Linked DNA regions of Homo sapiens: region 1 is linked to region 2. Evidence: fine-mapped expression QTL. A gene starts in region 2. The other region holds a variant in brackets. All regions are shown on one strand. Distances are from middle to middle. Region 1 overlaps RNF123 (ring finger protein 123). Region 2 holds the start of APEH (acylaminoacyl-peptide hydrolase).

What was found. PIP is the estimated chance that this variant, and not a neighbour inherited with it, causes the effect. A credible set is the group of variants that fine-mapping cannot tell apart.
Region 1: its variant is the best candidate, but not a certain one, in a credible set for the expression of APEH in whole blood (TOPMed, PIP 0.53).

Annotation. Positions count from the first base shown.
Region 1 is chr3:49,690,160-49,701,840 of GRCh38, forward strand. RNF123 (ring finger protein 123) reads left to right here. Exons shown (of 39, transcript NM_022064.5): 2 at 971-1,088; 3 at 1,266-1,350; 4 at 6,984-7,063; 5 at 7,204-7,298; 6 at 7,726-7,780; 7 at 7,893-7,978; 8 at 8,281-8,367; 9 at 8,596-8,663; 10 at 8,821-8,946; 11 at 9,309-9,423; 12 at 9,509-9,613; 13 at 10,068-10,193; 14 at 10,313-10,405; 15 at 10,477-10,550; 2 more. The coding sequence starts at 1,007. Among named protein-coding and RNA genes, the nearest start is that of RNF123, 6.4 kb to the left of the region's middle. The variant C/T (reference allele first, on the strand shown) is at 6,612.
Region 2 is chr3:49,668,751-49,680,431 of GRCh38, forward strand. It overlaps APEH (acylaminoacyl-peptide hydrolase), which reads left to right and starts at 5,601. Exons shown (of 22, transcript NM_001640.4): 1 at 5,601-5,663; 2 at 5,739-5,871; 3 at 6,433-6,559; 4 at 6,944-7,037; 5 at 7,141-7,216; 6 at 7,306-7,469; 7 at 7,628-7,765; 8 at 7,859-7,950; 9 at 8,027-8,067; 10 at 8,153-8,274; 11 at 8,823-8,883; 12 at 10,102-10,199; 13 at 10,843-10,894. The coding sequence starts at 5,652. BSN (bassoon presynaptic cytomatrix protein) reads left to right here. Exons shown (of 12, transcript NM_003458.4): 12 at 1-2,799. RefSeq lists a silencer at 5,286-5,895.

The DNA of each region.
Region 1 (11,681 bases), 21 kb after region 2:
TGCAGAGTAGGGAGTGCTGGCTAAGGCAGTGCTGCAGAGCGAAACTCTAGACCTGCGCTGTCTAATAGAACTTTATATGATGGTGGGAACGTTCTACCTTTGTGCTGTCCAACAGAGTAACCATTAGCCACATGTGGTCATTGAACTCTTGAAATGTGGCTAAGGCAACTGAGAAATCGAATTGTTAATTTTTAAAACTTTAAATTTAAGTAACCTCATGTGGATGACGGCTGCTGTGTTGGACAGCACCGCTACACATCAGTGAGGCCAGCACCAGGGACTCAGTGCAGGTTCTGGAGCAGCTGCAGCAGCAACATGATGTGAGGGATAGATGCACTAGGAGGACCAATGGAGTTTGCCATGAGGGCTGGGCAAGGGTGGTGCTTGGATGAGGTGGGAGGCCACATGTGTGAGTGGGAATGGTGAAACTATCAGGACCATGGATAAAAGAAGGGAGGAACCCAGGGCTGAGGAAAGAGGCTCCAGCCTTGTGGGGAGTAAGTGGGACTTATGGCTAGAGATGACCAGACCAGTGGTGGTCTGCACTTGGGGGAATGTGTAGGATTGTCGCTTCTGGTTGTGAGCTGGACTCAGTATGGCTTACAACTGAGATGGATACAGGGGCTCTGCCCCTAGGACACCTCACTTTGGACATTTTGGTCTGATTTCCACAGAGCTGAGACATTTTGTTATGGTTCGGCAAAAATATATCTAGTACCTGCTCTCTGCCCAGCCCTGTGCTGGGCACAGGGACACTGGAGAACAAGAAGTGGTCCCTGTTACATGGGCCTAGACCCTGGCTACCCTCCCTGTGTAGGAAGCTGGGAGCCCCTGCATTCCCCTGCCCTATGTGTTAGTGTGCATGCCCCTGGCCTCACCTGCTCCCAAGCCTTCCTGCCATGGCAGGACTGAGGTCAGGTGTGGGGGCCCCTGGCTGGCCCTGAGTAGACAGGCTCTGTGTCTGGCTCAGCCCCCAGGACCACTGGCTGCCCATGAGAGATGAAGGATGGCATCCAAGGGGGCCGGCATGTCTTTCTCCCGCAAGAGCTATAGGCTGACCTCAGATGCTGAGAAATCCAGGGTCACAGGTAAGAGCTGGCAGGGAAGGAAGGAGGCTCCTCTTGTTGGGAGGAGAAGGAAGGGACAAAGGCCTCAGGCCTTGCTGCACCTGTGGCTGGCCTAGGACCAGAAGTCTCTGGGGCCAGCAGGGGCCAGGAGCTGCACTGATCATGTGGCCCTTTTCTCCCTTCTGACTTGTGGCTCAGGCATTGTGCAGGAGAAGCTGCTGAATGACTACCTGAACCGCATCTTTTCCTCTTCTGAACATGCACCCCCAGCAGCCACCAGCAGGTATGGCTGGGTGGGTGGCCCCTCCTCACTCTGCTGGGCCAGACCAGAATAAGGAGGCTGCAGTTGTAGGGAAAGGGAGCCTGGGCTCTGGACAGATAGGCTTAGGCTCTGTTCTCACTGTGCTCCTGGCTGCGAGATCTCTGGCCAGAGAGTCTGCCTTCCGTACTCTGCTTCTTCCTGTCTCCAGGCAGTGCTAGTTCCTTCTGAGAGTCAGGGAGCAGAGGTCAGGGAGCGGGTGCACATTCATGCCCAGCTAGCACCTGGCACCTACTCCATACCCAGCATCTGCCCCTGCATGTACCTGCCCTCACCTTGGCCCCAGCCTGGCCCCTTGTAGCTTCTGACTGACCTTGTAAAGAACAAACTCCTCCAGGGCCTTTTCTTTACAAGTTTAATACTTTTAAGTGTAGTCAGTATAAAAGTTACAAGTACATTTTAGCAGAAACTTAGAGGGCCAGGCACAGTGGTTCACACCTGTAATCCCAGCACTTTGGGAGGCCAAGGTGGGTAGATTGCTTGAGTCCAGGAGTTCAAGACCAGCCTGAGCAACATGGCAAGACCCCATCTCTACAATAAAATACAGAAATTACCTGGGCATGGTGGTGTGCACCTGTAGTCCCAGCTGTTAGGGAGGCTGATGTGGGAGGATCACTTGAGCCTAGGAGGTTGAGGCTGCAGTGAGTTGGCCTCTGCATGCCACTGCACTGTAGCCTGGGTGACAGAGCAAGACCCTGTCTCTAAAAAAAGAAGGAAAAGCACCTGCTATCTTGTTATTTTAACATGACTATTCAAATGTGATTCTTTTCTGTTTCTTTCTTTGTGTTACATTTTTAATTTTTAATTTTTGTGGGTATGTAGTAGGTATATATATTTATAGGGTACATGAGATACTTTGATACAGGCATGCAATGCGTAATAATCACATCATGGTAAATGGGGTATCCATCCCCTCAAGCATTTATCTTTTGTCTTATAAACAATCTAGTTATACTCTTTTAGTTATTTTTAAATGTACAATTATTATTTACTATAGTCACTCTGTTCTGCTACCAGATAGGTCTCATTAATTCAATTTTTTTGTACGCATTAGCCATCCCCATCTCCCCACAAGCCCTATACTACCCTTCCAAGCCTCTGGTAACCATCCAGTACTTTGCCTCTATGAGTTCAATTGTTTTAATTTTTAGCTGTCACAAATAAGTGATAACATGCAATGTTTGTCTTTTTCTGCCTGGCTTATTTCATTTAACATAATGACCTCCAGTTCCATCCATGTTGTTGCATATTACAGGATCTCATTCTTTTTTATGGCCGAATAGTACTCCGTTGTGTATATGTACCATGTTTTCTTTATTTATTCATCTGTTGATGGACACTTAGATTGCTTCCAAATCTTGGCTATTGTGAACAGTGCTGCAACAAACATGGGAATGCAGATATCTCTTTGATATACTGATTTCCCTTCTTTCAGGTATATACCCAGCAGTGGGGTTGCTGGATCATATGGTAGCTCAATTTTTAGTTTAGTTTTTTTTTTTTTGAAAAATTTTTTTTTTTGAGACGGAGTCTTGCTCTGTTGCCCAGGCTGGAGTGCAGGGGCACAATCTCAGCTCACTGCAAGCTCCGCCTCCCAGGTTCATGCCATTCTTCTGCCTCAGCCTCCCAAGTAGCTGGGACTGCAGGTGCCCGCCACCATGCCCAGCTAATTTTTTGCATTTTTAGTAGAGACGGGGTTTCACCGTGTTAGCCAGGATGGTCTTGATCTCCTGAGCTCGTGATCCGCCCACCTCGGCCTCCCAAAGTGCTGGGATTACAGGCGTGAGCCAGTGTGCCTGGCCTTTTTTTTTTTTTTTTTTTTTTTTTTGAGATGGAGTTTTGCTCTTGTTGCCCAGCCTGGAGTGCAGTGGCATGATCTTGGCTCACTGCAACCTCTGCCTCCCAAGTTCTAGTAATTCTCCTGCCTCAGCCTCCCGAGTAGCTGGGATTACAGGCACAAACCACCACACCCAGTTAATTTTGGTATTTTTAGTAGAGATGGGGTTTCGCCATGTTGGCCAGGCTGGTCTCGAACTCCTAGCCTCAGGTGATCCTCCCACCTCGACGTCCCAAAGTGCTGAGATTACAGGCATGAGCCACCGCACCTGACCAATTTTTAGTTTTTTGAGGAACCTCCAAACTGTTCTCGATAGTGATTGCACTATTATAATTTACATTCCCACTAACAGCATACAGGGGTTCCACAACCTCGCCAGCATTTGTTATTGCCTGTCTTTTGGATAAAAGCCATTTTAGCTGGTGTGAGATGATATCTCGTAGTTTTGATTTGCATTTCTCTGATGACCAGTGACGTTGAATGCCTTTCCATATGCCTGTTTACCATTCGTATGTCTTCTTTTGAGAAATGTCTGTTCGTATCTTTTGCCCATCTTTTGATGGAATTATTAGTTTTTTTCCTATAGAGTTGTTTGCGTTCTTTGTATATTCTGGTTATTAATCCCTTGTCAGATGGGTAGTTTACAAATATTTTCTCCCATTTGTGGGCTGTCTCTTCACTTTGTTGATCGTTTACTTTGCTATGCAGAAGCTTTTTAACTTCATGTCTGTTTATCTTATAATGTATGTAGTTCAGATTATGCTGTATAGAAAACTTTAAAAAAATTTATCACCTTCAGTTCTTTTCTTAAAACGTTTTTATTGAGCTATGATTAATATACAATAAACTACACATACTTAAAGTGTACAATTTGATAAGTGTTAACATATATATAAAACCCGTGAAACCATCACTACCATCAAGGTAATGGACATGTCCCTCACTTCCAAAAGTCTATAGAAGTTTGCATCCTATTTTTATCATCAAATGTTATCCCGTGAGTATTTTTCCCCATTATCAATTTATCTTACTGAGCATCTTTAGGGCCAGGGGGTCTGCTGTGGCCCATACCAGTGCCCTAGTTTGGAAGGACTTTTGCTTTTGTAAACAATGCTGTGAGGATGCCCAGGGCTGGAGTCGTGTGGCTAGAGTGTTTGAACTGCAGTCACTTTTAAGACTGTTGCCAGATTACTTCTTCAAAGGATCAAGTAGGTTCTCCCTCCCTGCAGTGAGGCACGGTTGTCCCTGTCTCTCACCCCCTCATCAGCCTTAGCTGTTCTGTCTTTTACGACTTCTGCCCTTTAGGCAGGTCCAAAAGGCAGCAACGTTACCTGTTCTATTTAAGCAACTGTGGTGGTCAGAAAGTGCCTGCTTGCAGAGAGTTCCTGCCCACCCCCACCCCATACTCAGTCCTGGCCTGTTCTCAGAGCCATCTGATCCCTACCTCATGTGATACCAGAGATGGTCCTACTGCTGCTGCTGCTGCTGTGGCCGCCAGGAGAGACAGCAGGTGGTAGGGCTGTCAGTCAGTGGTTGTGGGTATTCAGGGCCCTGAACTGGGACCTAGGAGATCCAAAAAGGTCAGGGAAGTTGCTGGTCTTGGCCAAATGGGCAGTGCTGTAGGCACTCAGTGGTGGCTGTCTCAGGCCGACTGCCCACAGATATGTGCAGTCTGCTCTCAGGATCAGGCACACGACTTTTGGGGTCAGGTACAAGAGTAGCTGCTCCAAGTGTGGGCTTGTTAAGAACTGTTTTCTTTTGAGACAGGGTCTCGCTATGTCACAGTCATAGCTCACTGCAACCTCAAAGTCCCAGGCTCAAGGAATCCTCCCACCTCAGCCTCCCACATAGCTGGGACCACAAGCACATGCCACAGCACCCAGCTAATTTTTTTTTTTTAAGAGACAGGGTCTTACTGTGTCACCCAGGCTGGTCTCAAACCCCTGGGCTCAAGTGATTCTCCCACCTCAGCCTCCCAAAGTGCTGAGACTACAGGTGTGAGCCACCATGCTTGGCCTGTAACTGCTTTTGAGGAAGGCTCCTTTATCCTTGGGCCCACTGGGGTATTCAGAGATGGGGTTGGCTTTAGCCTTCTATGCTACTAGCTGAGCACCCCGACTGCATAGCCACCACCTGGCCTTGGCCTGGGACAGAGCAGCAGTGGGGAGGGGCCTTTGTGCATCTCTGCTCCTACAGCTCAGGGCTGGGAGTGGCTTACACTGGGGAATATGTGATCCCTGAGCCTGGGTAGTGGCTACTTTGTCAGGGTGCTTGTCCAACCTTTGTCCCCTTCCAGAGCTTTCTGTCTGTGTGGATGAGTGGGGTAAGAACTGGCATTAAAGGTGGAAGAGCAGGTGGTGGCACCCTGTGGGCAGCCAGGTGTGTAATGGGCCTCTGTTCTGCCTGAGTCCTGCTGGTTACCACCACCTCACTCCCTGCTATTCTTAGCAGCTGAGCTCAGGACAGCACTGACTGGCATTAGACAGTACCCTTTTCCCTCTAGGCCTGTGTGTTGAGAGGATGAGGGGGCCACCCAGACAGATTTTTCCCAACTCCTTTGGCTCGGGTAGGTGGGTCATGTGCTCCGCTGACCATTTATGGACTGGCGGGTACAGGACAGAGCCATCCAGCAGCTCAGAGGGCTGAGCCTTTCATACTTCCAGAACATGTCCCATTCAACACAGACTCCCCTGGCTGGGTGGTGGCGAGACTGGAATCTGCCCCAAAGGAACCACAGGCCTAGGGGCAAGGGTTGGACTAGGTGGCCTTGGTACTGACCACTTTGGGAACCAGCATTTCTCCCAGCCTTCTTCTTCCAGACATCATCAGCACAGCCACCTTTGAGAGCGGACAGGTTATGTGCTATGCAGACAGCACTTGTTATTCCCTGGGCTCTTCACAGCATCTCTAACATAAGTCACTATTCTGTTTTTACAGATGAAGGAATTAAGACTTAGAGAGGGCTACTTTTTTTTTTTTTTTTTGAGACAGAGTCTTGCTCTGTCACCCAGACTAGAGTGCAGTGGCACGATCATGGCTCACTGCAACCTCCGCCTCCCAGGTTCAAGCAATTCTCCTGCCTCCGCCTCCCAAGTAGCTGGTATTACAGGCACATGCCACCGCGCCCAGCATTTTTAGTAGAGTCGCAATTTCACCATGTTGGCCAGGCTGGTCTTGAACTACTGACCTCGTGATCTGCCCGCCTCAGCCTCCCAAAGTGCTGGGATTACAGGCATGAGCCACCGCACCTGGCCACATACTTTTTTTTTTTTTTTTTTTGAGACAGAGTCTTACTCTTGTTGCCCGGGCTGAAGTACAATGACACGATCTTGGCTTACTACAACCTCTGCCCCACCAAGGTTCAAGCTATTCTCCTGCCTCTGTCTCC[C/T]GAGTAGCTGGGATTATACGCATGCGCCACCACACTCAGCTAATTTTTGTATTTTTAGTAGGGATGGGGTTTCACCATGTGGCCAGGCTGGTCTCGAACTCCTGACCTCAGGTGATCTGCCCGCCTCGGCCTCCCAAAGTGCTGGGATTACAGGCATGGGCCACCACACCCGGCCTGGACTGGTTATACTTTTGAGTTTAGTGGAGAATTCGGCCTTCTGACCTCCTGCATGCCAGAGTCTAGGACTAGGCACAGCCCTTTTTCTGGAGTCTAGGCAGCCCCCCTGTGAGCTCAGGGGAAAGGATGGGATTTAGTGTCATCTGGCTGATTTCAAGGACTTGTGGACCCCTGGCAGCCTCTCACTCTCCCCAGGAAACCCCTGAACTTCCAGAACCTGCCAGAACATTTGGACCAGTTGCTACAGGTGGACAATGAGGAGGAGGAAAGCCAGGGTATGTGGCCACCTCTGGAGTGGGGTTGGGAGGTGCAGAGCTGGGACGTAGCGGGCCTGGAGACGTCTGGTGAGCTCAGGACACCCTATGCATCCTGTCAAATGCTCCACCCTGCCTGACCCCACCTCTCCTCTTTTCAGGACAGGTTGAAGGGCGGCTTGGCCCATCCACTGTGGTCCTGGACCACACAGGCGGCTTTGAGGGGCTTCTCCTGGTGGATGATGACCTGCTGGGGGTGAGTGAGGGTGAGGTGTGGAGACCCAGGTCCAGCCCCTTCTGACATAGCCCCAGGCTCCTCCTGATGTGGCCCTAGTCTCTCTACTCATCTGATGGGGCTGCAGCCAAAACTTGTCCTGACGTGGCCCCAGACCATTGTGTTCTCAGTCCTCAAACTCTCCCACTAAAGCCCTGAAACAGTCTTGATGTGGACTCAGCCCCCAGCCCTTCCCAGCACAGCCCTGAGTCCCTCTCTCATCCTGCCTTGGCCCAGGATCCTTCCTGATACAAGCCTACCCGCTCCCACCGTCCTCAGGCACAGTGCAGTGTTGGCCGCCACAGGCAAATACCACCAGGGCTGGCTCAGTTGGGGATGGGGTCTTTTTCCCTTGGGGAGATGCTCTGTGTGCCTGGGAGCTAGCCCACCACCCCTCTTCTTCACCCAGGTGATTGGACACAGCAACTTTGGCACCATCCGCTCTACCACATGCGTGTACAAAGGTGAGACCTTACCCTGCTGTGGCCTAGGTAGTGAGGAGAAAGTTTAAGGGCCCAGGCATGAGGCAAGAGGCAGTCTTTGTCCACCTCGTGGCCCTAACTCAGCTCTTTCCAGGGAAATGGCTCTACGAGGTCCTCATCTCCTCCCAGGGGCTCATGCAGATCGGCTGGTGCACCATCAGCTGCCGCTTCAACCAGGAGGTACACGTTGGGGAGGGGACCCCTCCCTGGGCCCAGGGAGAGCTTCTCCTGCCACAGGCCTCATCAGGTCTCCAGATCCCCTCAGAACTGCCTAGGACCCTAACTAACCTGGACTGCCCTCTGGAGAAGAAACGTGTCCCACCCAATCCCAGGCACCCCAGCTCAGAGAATACCTCTTACTCTTTCCCTCAGATCATCTGTTCCCTTCTGTAGAGCCATATGCATCCAAGGCTGGTGATTGGTGGGCTCTGGCCCAGACCCTGCCTGCCTCACCAGGGACCTCATAGGCATTTCCTCCCTAGGAGGGGGTTGGAGATACACACAACTCCTATGCCTATGATGGCAACCGCGTGCGCAAGTGGAATGTGACCACAACGAATTATGGCAAGGTGAGAGCCAAGCCCCTGTGGGTCATCCGCCCCATGACTGTTACTACAGCTTATTTGGAGCCACTGGGCAGCCATAAGGGACTACAGGGCACCAGGGAAGGGTCAGGGACCCAGGTCCTTTGTCCTTGTGGCTAGTCTCCCTTGGGTGGTTCTGGAAACGCAGCTGGGGTTCAGAGTCAGCAGGCTGCTGGGCTTCTGTGCATCTGGTGAGGCCTCCTCTCATGGCAGGCGTGGGCAGCGGGGGACATCGTGAGCTGCCTGATTGACCTGGATGATGGCACTCTGTCCTTCTGCCTGTGAGTTTCCTATCTCTATGCACAGGCCTGGCCCCTGGGGCCTCCCCAGACTGCCCCCAGTTTCCTGGGCCCTGTAAGGGGCCAGACTGAGTTTGATAGCCTGAGGGTGGGCAGCCACATGCTTAGCACTGGCTCACAGACCCACCCTTCTCCCCAGGAACGGTGTATCACTGGGCACTGCCTTTGAGAACCTGTCCAGGGGCCTGGGTATGGCCTACTTCCCAGCCATCAGCCTCTCTTTCAAGGAGTCCGTGGCCTTCAACTTTGGCAGCCGTCCTCTGCGATATCATTTTGTGAAGATGGCTGTGGGCTGCTCAGAAGCTCTTGGGGAGGCTGGGATGAGGGGCTCCCTACCCCAGGGGTGCCATGGGCTGGTGGCAGGCCCTGGCTGCTGCAGAGTTAGTGGGGGGCCATGTAGAGTGTCGAAGAAAACTTTCCTCGCAGCAGCCTGGTTGGTTGGGTGCCCTTGTCTCCACTGAACAGATGAGGAATGTGAAGCATCCTCCCTAGGGAGAATAAGTGGGCAAGTTGTGATGCAAACCAGCCCTGCCCTAGAGCCCAGGCCCCGGGGTGGGGGGTGGGCAGTGGAGAGGGAGTAGGCATGTCTGAGCCACAGATAAGGCGTTGCTGGCTTAACTCTGGCACCTACCCAGTGGCAGGCTACCGGCCCCTGCAGGACCCACCGAGTGCTGACCTGGTGCGGGCACAGAGGTTGCTGGGCTGCTTCCGGGCAGTGCTGAGTGTGGAGCTGGACCCTGTGGTGAGCTGGGGTCTGGGCCAGGCGGGGTGGGGGGCTTCCACAGCCTCCTGCCCCTCACACTTCTCCCTCCTCCCCCTCCACACAGGAGGGGCGGCTGTTGGACAAGGAGAGCTCCAAGTGGCGGTTGCGGGGCCAGCCCACCGTCCTCCTCACACTGGCCCACATCTTCCATCACTTTGCACCGCTTCTGGTGAGCGGCATTGGGAGGGGCATGGGAGGGGAGGAGACAGGCCATGCTAGACACGCCCGTGGTAGATGTGCCCTCACTGAGGGCTGCAGTGCTGAGGTCCCACAGCATCACCTGGCGAGGGCCCCATGTGACCAGGGCCCTCAGACCTCAGTCAGTCCCCTAGGGAAACAGGGACATTGCCAACCAAGGGCATCAGGGGATGTCCTGGAAAGAAGACTGAAGGATAATAACATCCCAGGCCAAGGAAACTGCGTGTGCCAAGCCTTAGAGGAGCCGTGGGGCAATGGCCTTCTTGTCCCTCAGTCAGACCCCGGAAGGGGTCATCTATGTTTGGTGTTGCTCGAGTGGCTCAAGGCTCTGTGCCTGAGGCTTGTGCCTTGGCCATGTGCCAGGGCAGGGGTGCCTTGACCAGAGTGGAAGGCCACCACCTCACCAGTGCCTGGCCTTGGTGCAGCGCAAGGTGTATCTGGTGGAGGCTGTGCTCATGAGCTTCTTGCTGGGCATCGTGGAGAAGGGCACACCCACACAGGCACAGTCCGTGGTGCACCAGGTCCTGGACCTCTTGTGGCTCTTCATGGAGGTGAGGCTCCTGACCTCAGGCCTCAGGCCTGGCTGTCAGTCTTCACTGGGGTCGGGAAGATACGGGGAGAATCTTGGAAAAGGCCCCAGTCATGGCTGCCTTGGCATCTCTTCCCCCAGGACTACGAGGTACAAGATTGCCTCAAGCAGTTGATGATGTCTCTGCTTCGGCTGTACCGATTCTCACCCATTGTCCCAGACCTGGGCCTACAGGTGGGAGCCCCTACCCCTGCCCTGAGCCCCCTGGGACTCGCCTGTCCACTCTGAACGCCCCCTCTCCACAGATCCATTACCTGCGGCTCACTATCGCCATCCTGAGGCATGAGAAGTCCCGCAAGTTTCTGCTTAGCAATGTCCTGTATCCTTTCCTTGCTGCCTGGCAGGCCAGACATGGGGTGCCCTCTGGACTCAGCAGAGGCCAGGAAGGGGAGTGTCATCAGGCCAGGGGTCCCCTGGGAGCATCAGGAGGACCAGAGCTGCCCAACGTGGCATTTTCTCTACAGAGCAAGGACGAGAGAGCAAAGGACTGAGCCTGGCCAGCCAGCCTAGCCAGGGGGTTCTGAATGACTGCAGACTCGGGCTACGCAGAGGTGTGGGAGGGGCCACAGGGCCTGCCCTCTTCGGCCACAGCCCAGCACTTTTGTTCATGTTCCACAGTGGGGATTCCTGCAAGATCTTTAAGGAGGCAGCTCTTCCTGCTTCCCAGAATTGTTGGGAACTGCATGAGTGAGTGAGAGCATAGCTTTGAGCCCCTGGCTGGGAAGCCTCAGCTTGTAGCCGTTTTCTTGGTCTGGGGTCTTCCAGCCTCCAGGAGGCAGACACAAAGCTGGGAGACACAGAGGTCAGAGTTGGGGCCTGAGAAAAGGCCACCAGTCCCTCTCTCCAGCTTGTCCCACAGTCATCTGTTCCTGTGACAAGCCCTTATCGTGCACCTGCTGGGTACTGGAGCTGGTGGGCTTAACCACCACAGCTTTTTGTCAGGGAGCATGCCCTGGGGGTCAGACACATAGCAGCAACATGCCCCTGTGGTGGTGGGAGAGCTGTGGTAGGCACATCCAGGGATGGGCTCCTGGGGAAGGACTCTTGAGGGTGTGCAGAGTGCCCTTTGGCAAGCAGAGCCCTGCCTTGACACCCGCCAGCTTCGACGTGCTCCGCTCCGTCGTCTTCTTTTACATCAAGAGCCCCCTGCGTGTGGAGGAGGCCGGCCTGCAGGAGCTCATTCCCACCACCTGGTGGCCCCACTGCTCCAGTAGGGAGGTGAGTGCACCCCAAGTGGGATGGGCAGAGGTCATGGCAAGGCCCCTGGCCTGGGCATCTGGCCACTGGGCATCTAGCATGAGGCCTTTTCACTGGCCCTGGTCCCTGAAGCCCTGGAGATGGAGTGTGGGTGTTCTGAGTGAAGGAGGCCTGGCTAGGTCCCAGGTGACCCTGCTGTATTCCACCTGCTACCCCTGCCTAGGGCAAAGAGAGCACGGAGATGAAGGAGGAG
Region 2 (11,681 bases):
CGGTGGACTGGGCAGCATTCCTCCCCAGGGCTCTTCCCTTGGGGGCCTCCTTTCATCTGGGGCACAGCCACAAGTCTCATCTCTAACGTTCTATGCAATGAAATATAAACCCTCAATGACAACTGTTAATATTTAATAAATTCCATGTTATGTATAAGGAGTTAATTGCAAACATGCAATTGAGAAACTGGATAGATACACTCATAAAACCCCCACCCCTCCCCACCCCACCCCTGCTCCCATTGTGTGTGTGAAATTCTCAGTCTGTGGCATGTTTGACCTGTGGCAGGACTCGCTGCTGCCAGGTGAGTCACCGCCTGTCCTGCAGTGGAGCATGCACAGCTCGCAGCCTCTTTGCACGATTTCATCCATTTTAAATGCTTGACCCTCTTGCTTGGAGTTCTTTTTGCCTCAGAACCTCTCCTTCAGGAGCACTTCTAGCTGACTTCTGCACAAGCTAGTGAGGACCTGCCAGAATTGTTGCCTGAGCGTGCCAGGCTGCAGGGCAGGCAGTAAAAGGCCCCCACATACCCTGCAGTTTTCTCTGTCCAGGACAGCAGGTAAAAAGGAATCCCCAGAGCAGACGCAATGGTAGGAGCCTGCACAGGATGTGTGTGTATGGACATTCTGAAGGTTTGCTGTAGGATATCTGTCTGTCTGTCATTTTCCCTTCCTACCCCAACCCTGAGCCAGAGGCATCTGACAGCCCTTTCCCAGAGGGCACCACGCAAGGGCAGAGCTGGGCGGCATCCACAGCCAGAGAGGCAGAGGCAAGAGCAGAGCCAGGCTGTGCCCGAGGGACCCCAGCTCTTGACTGCACCTGTTTCATGCCTCTCCTCTGTGGCTAGGAGGCTCAAAGGACTGTGAGCCAGGAGATCTGGGCTGGAGCTAGGGGGTCAATGGATGCTCAGGAAGAGCTGGGCCTTTGGCACTTGTGGTGAGAACAGTTGACAGTGGTCATCTGGAACTGTTCATATAAACAGTGGCTTCAAGCTAAGTTTCTTGTGAAGTTTCTCAATAGCAAATCTTACAGAAGGTCCTGTGTGACCCTCTCTGCATCTGTCCCCAGGACCTATGCTCCCTGCTCACCCCCTTCTCCAAAGCCCAAGCGTCCCGCTGCTCATCAGCTTTTTTACCATTGAGCCAGGAGTGCGGCAGGCAGTACCTGCCTGACCCTTCAAGGCCTGACCTTCGTCCAGAGTGCTCTGGTTTGCACCATGCATTTCTCAGGGGTCCGCATTTCTCATGCTTTTCTATAAGATCTACACACCCCTTCAGAGAGGGCTCCTCGCTCACCTCTGGTAGCTATGGATGGGACAGGAAGCTGCCAACCTTTGTGTTGGACTTAACACCCTTGCCTTTCTGGGACTTGGCCTCACCCCACCCATGGAATACCTGCCTCATCCCAAAGATCAGGTATGGGCTGAATGCAGCCATCTGAGCAAGGGCTGAGGGAAGCCATCACCTAACACCTCTGGCCACCCAGGACCAGGTCTGTGTGGGGATGTGCCTTGGAGACCAAGGCAATAGTCCTTTCCACTACAGGCCAGGGGATGGGACAAGAAGTAGGGAACAGGCAGGGAAATGTTAGGAGGTCAGCCTCCAGCAGGCCTAGTCTCAGGCTCTAAAGTACTGACTTTTCAGCAAATTTCCTTTCTGGCCAAGCCCTCTGAGTTTGAAATTCTGACATCTGCCACTCCTCATCCCCCACTGTACCCACAGGATACATCATCGCCCCTCTGTGAAGGTGGCTGGAGCAGGCCTCTGGTCCATGGACTGTCCTTCCTGGCCCTTGCATGGATGCAGTTGTGACTCTGGGGACAATGCAGCCAGAAGCTGAGGGACCAGCACTTGGTGCCTTGGAAAGTAGAGAGCAACAGACACATCTCCAAATGGGCAAGGAGTCTCTAGCATGCAGCCCAGGCCTTCTCCATACCCCTCTCCCCAGCATCATGAGCAAGGGCATTGCCTCCTCTCTCTGCTCACTTCAGGGCCCAGTGCACTCACTTCACAGTGACAGCCCTCCCCTACAATCCTTGGGCAGAGCATGTGGTCTGAGGGCCCACAGTGAAAGAACAGCAGTGGTGGCAACTATGCCTTGCCTTCTGGAGCCTGTAGGGAGTTTTCCAGGCAGGTCCTTTGCCAGGACAGCATGGTCCTGCCCTGTTGTCCCGTCTGCTCTCCTCTTACCCACCCCCATGCTGTAAATACTTGTCATCATGGACTCCAACAGGGTTAGAGGGACAGGCCTAATCAACTGAAACTCCTCGGAGATGCCATCTCTGTCTCCCTGGGTGCCAGCAGCCCTGCTGCCATGTGCACTGGGGTGGCACTGGAGAGCCATGGCAGTCGTGAGATATTGTATGTGTATGCACATGATCATGTGTGTATGTGCGTGCGTGCGTGCGTGTGTGTGTGTGTGTGTGTTTCTGCCTCATTCAGTTTCTGGGGTCAAATCAGCTCCTTCTCTCCAAGTGCACTACCCTGGAGAGTGGTGGCCACTCAATACCTTTTCCTCTAGCTTTCATGTCTTGTTTTTGCTTTCCCCTTCCTCCTCCCTCTCTCCCTTTCTTTCCTTCTCTCCTTCTTTATTTGAGGGGGGAAGAGTGCTGTACAAAGTCAAACAAACAAGTTTACAGTTGTAAGTGCAATGACCCGAGTCCTCCACATGACCTTGTGAATTGTGTGCTGTCCTTCTGTGCTCTGTGAGAACTCGTGGTACTTCAGTGTCCCTCCCCCTGTATTGTGACAAGGTAATTCTGTGGTATCAGAATAAAAGGACTTGATATAAACAACCTACAGACTGTTTCTGGGATGGTTTCTCAAGTGGGAAGGCTTAGCTGAAGGAGCAAATCCCCAAATTTGCGACAATCCTGTCCATGGTTAAAGGGAAAAGGATGGACAAAGTTGCAGAAGTGCTGGCACAGCACGGGGCTGAGTCCACACCAAGCCATCCAAAGACAATGGGCCCTCCACAAAGGTGCCCAAGGGGAGGTCCCAAGCTTGGACCTGGAGCAGGCAGTCAGTGCGCAGGCTGTTGAGGGACAGCACCTCCATGGCCTTCAGGTGTGTTGGCTGCATACACAGCTTTCTGGGACCTGGTTCCAGGGAGGCAGTGAACAAGTGCTGCCCCCTGGTGCTGCCAACAAGCCCTACACCTCTCTGCCTTGCTCCGAATTTTCCAACCCCCAAACTCTCACCGGCTGCCAGACCTTAGGCCTTCCTCAGATGGTCAGGAGTACCTCCTTACCGAAGTCACCCAGAGTTGCTAGACCTTTTTTTTTTTTTTTTTTTTTTTTAACACAGATAAACAGGAATCCCAGCTTCACCTCTGGCCCTCTCCCCAGAATTAACATTTTGATGCGTGTCCTTCTTTCCTGTTTGTTGTTCCAGTCTTCATTTTAAACAGAAGCCAGAAGGTGCAATATATCCTGTTTTCTAGCTTTCTGTTTATTTCCACGTTTATTTCAGGTACTTAAATGTTCGTCTTCCAGTGCTCAACCTCCAGAGAGATACACCATTAGTTCATAGCCAGTCTACCACACACAATCTAAGGAACAGGCACTATGTTCCCAGTGTTCCTATTATAAACAATGCTTGATGAACATCCTATTTTCCAATCTTTCCACCCAAATTGGTGGCTGGGGCCACTCATTCTACTCCTGTTTCTGGCCTTGATACAGTCCTGTACATACTGACAAATGCAGTGGCGTCAGAAAGTTGGGACTCTTTTTTTTTTTTTTTCTTGAGACGGAGTTTCACTCTTGTTGCCCAGGCTGGAGTGCAGTGGCATGATCTCGGCTCACTGCAACCTCCACTTCCCAGGTTCAAGCGATTCTCCTGCCTCAGCCTCCCGAGTAGCTGGGATTACAGGCGCGTGCCACCCAGCCCGGCTAATTTTTGTATTTTTAGTAGAGACAGGGTTTCTCCATGTTGGCCAAGCTGATCCCGAACTCCTGGCCTCAGGTGATCCACCCGCCTCAGCCTCCCAAAGTGCTAGGATTATAGGCGTGAGCCACCGCGCCTGGCACTTTTTTTTTTTTTTTTTTAAGATGGACTCTGGCTGTCGCCCAGGATGGAGTGCAGTGGCGCGATCTCGGCTCACTGCAAGCTCCGCCTCCCGGGTTCACACCATTCTCCTGCCTCAGCCTCCCGAGTAACTGGGACTACAGGCGCCTGCCACCATGCCCAGCTAATTTTTTGTATTTTTAGTAGAGACAGGGTTTCACCGTGTTAGCCAGGATGGTCTCGATCTCCTGACCTCGTGATCCGCCCGCCTCGGCCTTCCAAAGTGCAGGGATTACAGGCGTGAGCCACCGCGCCCGGCCGGCCGGGACTTTTTTTTTTTTTTTTTTTTTTTTTTTTACTTAACTAGTTATCTTGAGTAAGTAATGATGCGGCTGATGGGAAAGGGGAAGCTACAGGCCAGACAAGTGGACTCTCAATCACAAGCACGCCATGGAGCAGGGAGCCAGGGCCCTGAATGTGGAAGACCAGCCAGACTCAGGTATATGGAGGGAACATCCTTACTGTCCAGCCTCTCCTGATCTCTGTTGGCACCTTAGCCCAGCCAATCCTGTACCACGTGCACAGGGAACCTGCCTGCCTAGGTTTTTTCCACAGGAAGCTCCCTGGTCCTGGGTGGAGTCTGAGCCCACCAGGCCTTTCACACCCAAGAGCTCAGGGTGAGGCCTGGGGAGGAAGGCAGGGACCCACCAGCTCACGGTCCCCAACAAGGTGCCACTGAGAAGGCTGGGTAAAGGCTGCGGGGATAGATAGCTCTTGCGGCAGGCCTGGCGACTGATAAGTCCGGGCAGCACCCTAAGAGTTGGCACCCGCCCCTCTGCCCCGCACCCCAGGGCTTTGCTTCGCGCCCTCCGCCCGGACCCTGGCCCTTCTCTTCTTCGTCTGCGTGGAACTCCCTCCAGGGCAGGGCCTGGCACTGTGTAGTGAATGTCGGCCTCGTGGTGGACCCGAAGGAACCCTACAGTCAGCCCCAGAGCCGCGGGAGATCCACGCTGCGGCCGGCTCCGCCCCGCCCAACCCTCACCCTCACGCTCACGCTCACGCTCACGCTCACGCTCACGCTCACAGGCTCCCGGCTCCACATTCCTCGCAGGGCTCCAATCCGGACCCGCCCGCCTTGCCCTTCATCCTCAAAGACTCATTGGTCCCATTCCCCTCGGGCCCCGCCCTTCGCGTGCTTGGGCCATGCCCGTCCGACCGCGCTGCTTCCGCCTTGCAGCACCCCCTCAACCCCTTCTCTCGTAGGCCCTTCTACCCTCCCCGAAGCCGGGCTCCCGGGTTCCGCTTCCACAGGGCCGCCCCCTCTCCTCCGAGATCCAACGCCTCGCCCCTCGGTAAGAGGCCCAGGACTCAGCCCACGGCCCCGCCCCCCACTTGGCTAGTCCGCCCCTGGCGAGACCCCTGCTCTCACCCACCCAGGACTTCTCGCTCCCAGGCCGGGTCCTCTCACCGTCAAGGCCCGCCCCCTGCCAACGGTCCTCACCCATTAGCCGAAGGCCCCGCCCCTCACAGATTGCCGCAGGGCAGGGGCGGAGACAGCCCGGGCCGTCCCAGGCTCCGCCCCCGGAAGCCTCACTTCCGGGCGCGAGCACGCCCCGCCTCGCCCCGGCGGCAGAGAGGAGACTATGGAACGTCAGGTGAGGGCTCGGCCCGCGGTCCCCGTGGTCCCTGCAGCCCGGGCCGGGCCTGACCCTGGTGTGTCCCCTGCGCAGGTGCTGCTGAGCGAGCCCGAGGAGGCGGCGGCTCTGTATCGGGGCCTTAGCCGCCAGCCCGCGCTGAGCGCCGCCTGCCTGGGCCCGGAGGTCACCACGCAGTACGGCGGCCAATACCGGACGGTGCACACTGGTGTGTGTGCGAAGGGGAACTGGCTGGCGACGGGGTCGCGCACTGGGGTGGGAAGGAAGGGGGTGTGGAGGGCTCGCTGCTTGACAGTGCGTAAGGGTATATAGGGAGCCGGCCTGGACTTGGAGGTTACACTCCCACAGGTCCCTGCACACAGGTGTGTGGAGGGGGGGAGGGGGCGTGCGGGGCGTTATCGAATGGCGGCCATGAGTGCACGAGATGACGGCGTAGGGGTAGAAGTCAAACCTGGGCTCAGGGCGTGGACCTTGTAGGGCTCTCCACCAACACGCCATCCCATACACATGCCAGGCTGCCCTCAAGATTCCAGGGTGGATGCTGGGGTTACTAGGGGGTTCTCTCAAAGAGGCTGTCAGCTCAGGCTCTGGAGGCCTGGACTAGGGTTGTGGCCAAGTGTTGTCCAGCCTGCAGCCAGGGTGTCAGTGTCTGGAGACAGATTGAGAGATTGGGGAAGATAGATCTAGGCCTTCCTGGGTCAGGTGGGGCTGGGGGCAGTAGCCAGGAGTAGCCAAGACAAGGTGAGCAGTCTCATGCCTCCCCTCACAGAGTGGACCCAGAGGGACCTGGAACGCATGGAGAACATTCGATTCTGCCGCCAATACCTGGTGTTCCATGACGGGGACTCAGTGGTGTTTGCAGGACCTGCAGGCAACAGTGTGGAGACCCGGGGGGAGTAAGTTTGAGGGAGGAAGCTTGTGGGCAAGGCCACAGCCGTCCGCAATGCAAGCCTTTTATGAATGCTCACCATGTGCCTAGAAGGGAGGCCAGCAGCCAGGTTCTTGCCCCCTTGGGAGCTCATTCAGTTTCTGGTGACATGGCCTGATAAGCACTGGAAGCTTGCTCCAAACTCAGCCTGGACTAGAGCCCATGGTGGCCTGGGGAGTTGCAGAGAGTAGAGTCTCTGCCTCAGGGAGGAAAGGCAAGGTGGGGCTAGAGGTGCTCCAGAAGCTGGTGTGGGGCCAGAGCCTCAAGAATCTCTCCTAAGAGGTGTGCCCAGTAGGGAGCAGGAAGGGGTTATTGCAAGATAATCCTGACCTGTGCTACCCCATGTCCACAGACTGCTGAGCAGAGAGTCTCCTTCAGGCACCATGAAAGCTGTGCTGCGCAAGGCTGGAGGCACGGGCCCTGGGGAAGAGAAGCAGTTCCTGGAGGTGAGTCTGCATGGGACCAGGTAGTGGGTGACAAGAGAGAGGCTCTGCCCCACAGATAAGGCTCTGTTAGCGGGCAAACAGCCTAATGCCCAGATGTCCTCAGGTCTGGGAGAAGAACCGGAAGCTCAAGAGCTTCAACCTGTCAGCGCTGGAGAAACATGGGCCTGTTTATGAGGATGGTGAGGCATCTGGCTGGTGAGCAGGCAGGGTGGACAGGAGGGGTAGCCGTAGCCCTGGGCCCCCCCTGATTGGCCCTCCCTGCACCCAGACTGCTTTGGCTGCCTGTCCTGGTCGCACTCGGAGACACACTTGTTGTATGTGGCAGAGAAGAAGCGCCCCAAGGCCGAGTCCTTCTTTCAGACCAAAGCCTTGGACGTCAGTGCCAGCGATGATGAGATAGCCAGGCTGAAGAAGCCAGACCAAGCCATCAAGGTGCTCGTGGTCAATCCACGAAGGCCCGGCAGGGCAGCCCTGGGGCTCAGTGTGCTCCCTTCCCATACTGTGCCTGTCAGACCTGGGGAGGCACTAGCTTTTAGGAAGCAGAGCAGGTCCTATAGACAGGCTGGGCATTGAGTATCTTGTGTTCTCAGGGGGATCAGTTTGTGTTTTATGAAGACTGGGGAGAAAACATGGTTTCCAAAAGCATCCCTGTGCTCTGCGTGCTGGATGTCGAGAGTGGCAACATCTCTGTGCTTGAGGGGGTCCCTGAGAATGTGTCCCCTGGACAGGTCAGCAGCAACAGCCTGTGTCCCCCCTGGAGTCTGGGACCCTTCTTGAGCTACCACCCCTTGCTCACTCCTGCCCTTTGATCCTGTTTACAGGCATTTTGGGCCCCTGGAGATGCTGGTGTGGTGTTTGTGGGCTGGTGGCATGAGCCCTTCCGGTTGGGCATCCGCTTTTGCACCAATCGCAGGTGAGGGAGTGGGGCAAGGCAAGGGGCCTTGCAGCCCAGCTGGCCTTGAGACTGAGTGTCTGTCTCGTGGTTCCAGGTCAGCCCTGTATTATGTGGACCTCATCGGGGGGAAGTGTGGTAAGTGGCTGATGCCCACCTGTGCTTTGCTGACACATGTTGGCCCTGCCAGCCTGCGTGATGCTCATGTTTCCATCTGGCCCAGAGCTCCTCTCGGATGACTCCCTGGCTGTCTCTTCTCCCCGGCTGAGCCCAGACCAATGTCGCATTGTCTACCTGCAGTACCCATCTCTGATCCCCCATCACCAATGCAGCCAGCTGTGCCTGGTGAGCTGGAGGTGGCAGGGATGGGAGGGTGGTCAGCAAGAAGATGGGATGGTGGATGAGAGCTGAAGGGCCAGTATCATCTCCCCATAGGCCCTCAGTAGGTGCCCTTCTGTCCTCAATGCAGCAGCGGTGTGAGTTCTGCCTGTCCTCTCAAGGAGGGCCTAGAGGTTGAGAGTGCTGCCATGGAGAGCTTTGCACTGTTGGGGCATTCCACCTTGAGAGAATGCTCGTCTGCAAGAATGCTCCTCCCCTTGGCTCTCAACTGCATGTAGCCAGGCTCTGCAAGGGGCTGGGATATAGTGGGGAGTTACACAATCCCAGACCCTCCCCAGGAAGAGCTCTGGGCCCCTGGTAAAAGTCAGAGGGACATGCCTATCTGAGGCCCCTTGGGCATCTGGTCCAGGTCACCAGAAAAGAGATACATCAGGCTTATTCCAGTTCCCCCATCTCCTGGGGCTACCTGAGGCAAAAGGGGATAGGCACAGGGCACTGTGCCCTAAGGGAACTGCCTGTCCCCTACTGGACCTGACCATTGTGTTCTCTTGCAGTATGACTGGTATACCAAGGTTACCTCAGTGGTGGTAGATGTTGTGCCTCGGCAGCTGGGAGGTAAGGCATACCTGGCTGGGTGGGTGCAGTGGGGCCTGTAGCTCTGCTTTCCTGCCGTCTGTTGCATCCCTGCCCCGTTCTTCTTTCCTAGGTTCCTTCTGAGGGCCCTACCTCCCTGCTGGGCCAGCCTTATGCCCAGCATCCTCAGGGAGCGGGGCTGTCACCATAGGGAGCGGGGCTGTCACCGTAGGGAACAGTTCAATAGCAAGGAGTGGTAGGACCAAGCTGAGATCAGAGTGGCCCAAGTTGATGATGTATTATTTCCTGTGCTGCAGGTCATAATTAGAGTTTTCTTATTTTTCCAATGGCTGGTTCAAACCAAAACCATGACTCCTTCAAGTGGGTCTCAGGAAGTGCACTAGGTTGGAATGTCACACTCGAGAGGCTCTGGACCCGAGGGCATGATATTATCCCATCCACCATCCTAACCCCAGCAACCTTTGTCCAGTCTAAGCCCTGAAGTCAGCTGGGTCTTCAGGAGGGTGGCTCTTGGCTGAGAGGCTCCCGTCTCGAGTGTTGATAGCTCTGCTTGGATCCTCCTGGACCATCTCAAGGATGAGTCTCTTGTTTTCTCAGGCCACCCGGTCAGTTCCAGGAGTTCAGTGGACAAGGGATAGCCTCTTTGTCTTCTCTTTGGGTTGCAGGGATGCAGTGGTGGGAACCTAGTATGAATCCCAGCTCTGCCCTAAATTAGCTGTGTCCTCAGACAGGGTCCTGGCCTCCCTGAGCTCCCATTTCTTCATGGAGGGGTGATTGTGTCTGCCTGCCTCATAGGATCATAGTGAGTGTTAAGTGAGTGATGATATTAAAGGGTAGGATTTACTGAGCCCCCTGTGCCAAGCGCTGTGCTAAGCACCACAGTGGAGATAAGACGGACAGATGATATCTTGGTTAAAGCACCTGGTACCTACCTGGGTTCAACTGGAATTACTCAGGAGAGCAAGTGCTTTTCCTCTGAGCACCCATGGTTTCTCTCTGGAGCTCTTGAGCTCTGCCTCTCTGGGTCCTCTCTGGGTCCCAAGAGGCCTCTGCCCCTCAGCCACCTACTCAGGCAGCTCCTCATCGCGTAGCGTGCCCCCATGTGTGCTACAAGCTGCAGGGGCCTGACTGGTGCCTGAGTAGGGCCCTGGGTGAATTCCCCAGTACCCTAGCCTTCCTTGTAGACTACCCTCCCTACCTCCACTCCTGGATGCAGCCTCAGCCCTCCTATCTTTACAGAGAACTTCTCTGGGATCTACTGCAGCCTTCTGCCTTTGGGATGCTGGTCAGCTGACAGCCAGAGAGTGGTCTTTGACTCGGCTCAGCGCAGCCGGCAGGTGAGGGACGCTGATTGTGTTGAGGGGCAGCCCCTGTGGTCAACCCCCAGGAGCCCTGGGGGTTGCATGTGCATGCCCCTGGGTGGAATGCCCAGCCACAAAGTCTCATCAGCCCCTTAAAACCCTGCCTGCCCATCCTGGACTCATTTCTCCTGGAGGGGACTGGCTGCCCTGGTGCACCACAGCAGAACTCAGGCCTTTTCGTCTGAGGCAGAGATGCAACCCCTCCCAGGCATTTCTAGCTGGGGGTCAAGGGGACTGCCACTCGGGTGGGTCCCTGAACACTCTGTAATGGCAGCTGATGGGGACAGGACTGAGGCCTTCCCCCAGGGATGGAGTAAAGCCACTCACAGTGTGCCAGGCTCCTTTTGGGTGTGATATTTGGTCCTTGTGCCAACTCAAAGGGGCTCAAAGCCATTCCTTACCTTGCCCAGGGTCACCCAGCAAGTTGTGATGGTGCTGGGATTTGAACCCAGGCCCTCACACTACTCCCTACTGCACTGAGTAACCATCACCATAGCTGTCCACAGCCTTGGTCTGGCCAGGGCTCTCCAAGAGGGTAGAGAGGAGGTAGGGGAGGGACCCATAGGTAGAGGGAGTACTCTTGGATGTGGTCGCACCTGTGGCCTTGCCTCTGCTTCAGGACCTGTTTGCTGTGGACACCCAAGTGGGCACTGTGACCTCCCTCACAGCTGGTGAGCAAGGCTTTGGGGATGGGGGTAAGGGCAGGGCTGGTGAGCAAGCCAACCAGGCAGCGGGGGACTGGAGCTCCAACATGTGGGGCAGTGATGGCATTCTCAGCCACTCAGCACCACTGACTGTTCCACAGCCTTTACTAACAGGTCCCCAAGGCCCCTGTCTGTGCAGACCCTTACCCAACCAACAGACTAGCTTCCCTGCTCTACTGCCCTTTAGCACTCAACTCTGTTCCATGTGTCCTGGCCCAGCCTCAGCACGGCCCCCACCTCTGCTCCTAAAACCCACAAAACTCTCTCTTATCAAGATCTGCCAGACTCATCCTTCTCGCTCTGCAAACCTTGGGTGCCTGTCTCAGGCAGAGGCAGCTCTGCCACCTGAGGGCCCAGGAAAAGCCCAGTGTTGACTCCCCCGTCTTCCCCATACTTAGGCCTGGTGATTCTGCCTTTGAAATGTGTTTTGAGTCCTCCACCTGACCTGACTGTATCCGCTCCTCCACAAAGCTACCAAAGTATCATTCCAAAGCTACATCTCATTGTACAACTGCTTGGACACCACTGCCCCAAATCAGCACGCTCCCCGACCCCCAACTTCCCGGTCCCAGCTGCCACCCTGCACACAGCAGCCATCGAGGGACAGGCAGATGTGCCTGCATGGTCTGATGTGTCTTAAGGTTTGGCAGTTCCCAGCCCAGCCAGTGTCTGTCAGATGAACAACAGACTGAGAGCAGGAGGCTCACCCGGGGCCATGTGCAGTTGGGTGTTTGTGAAAGGCACTTCTCGGGGA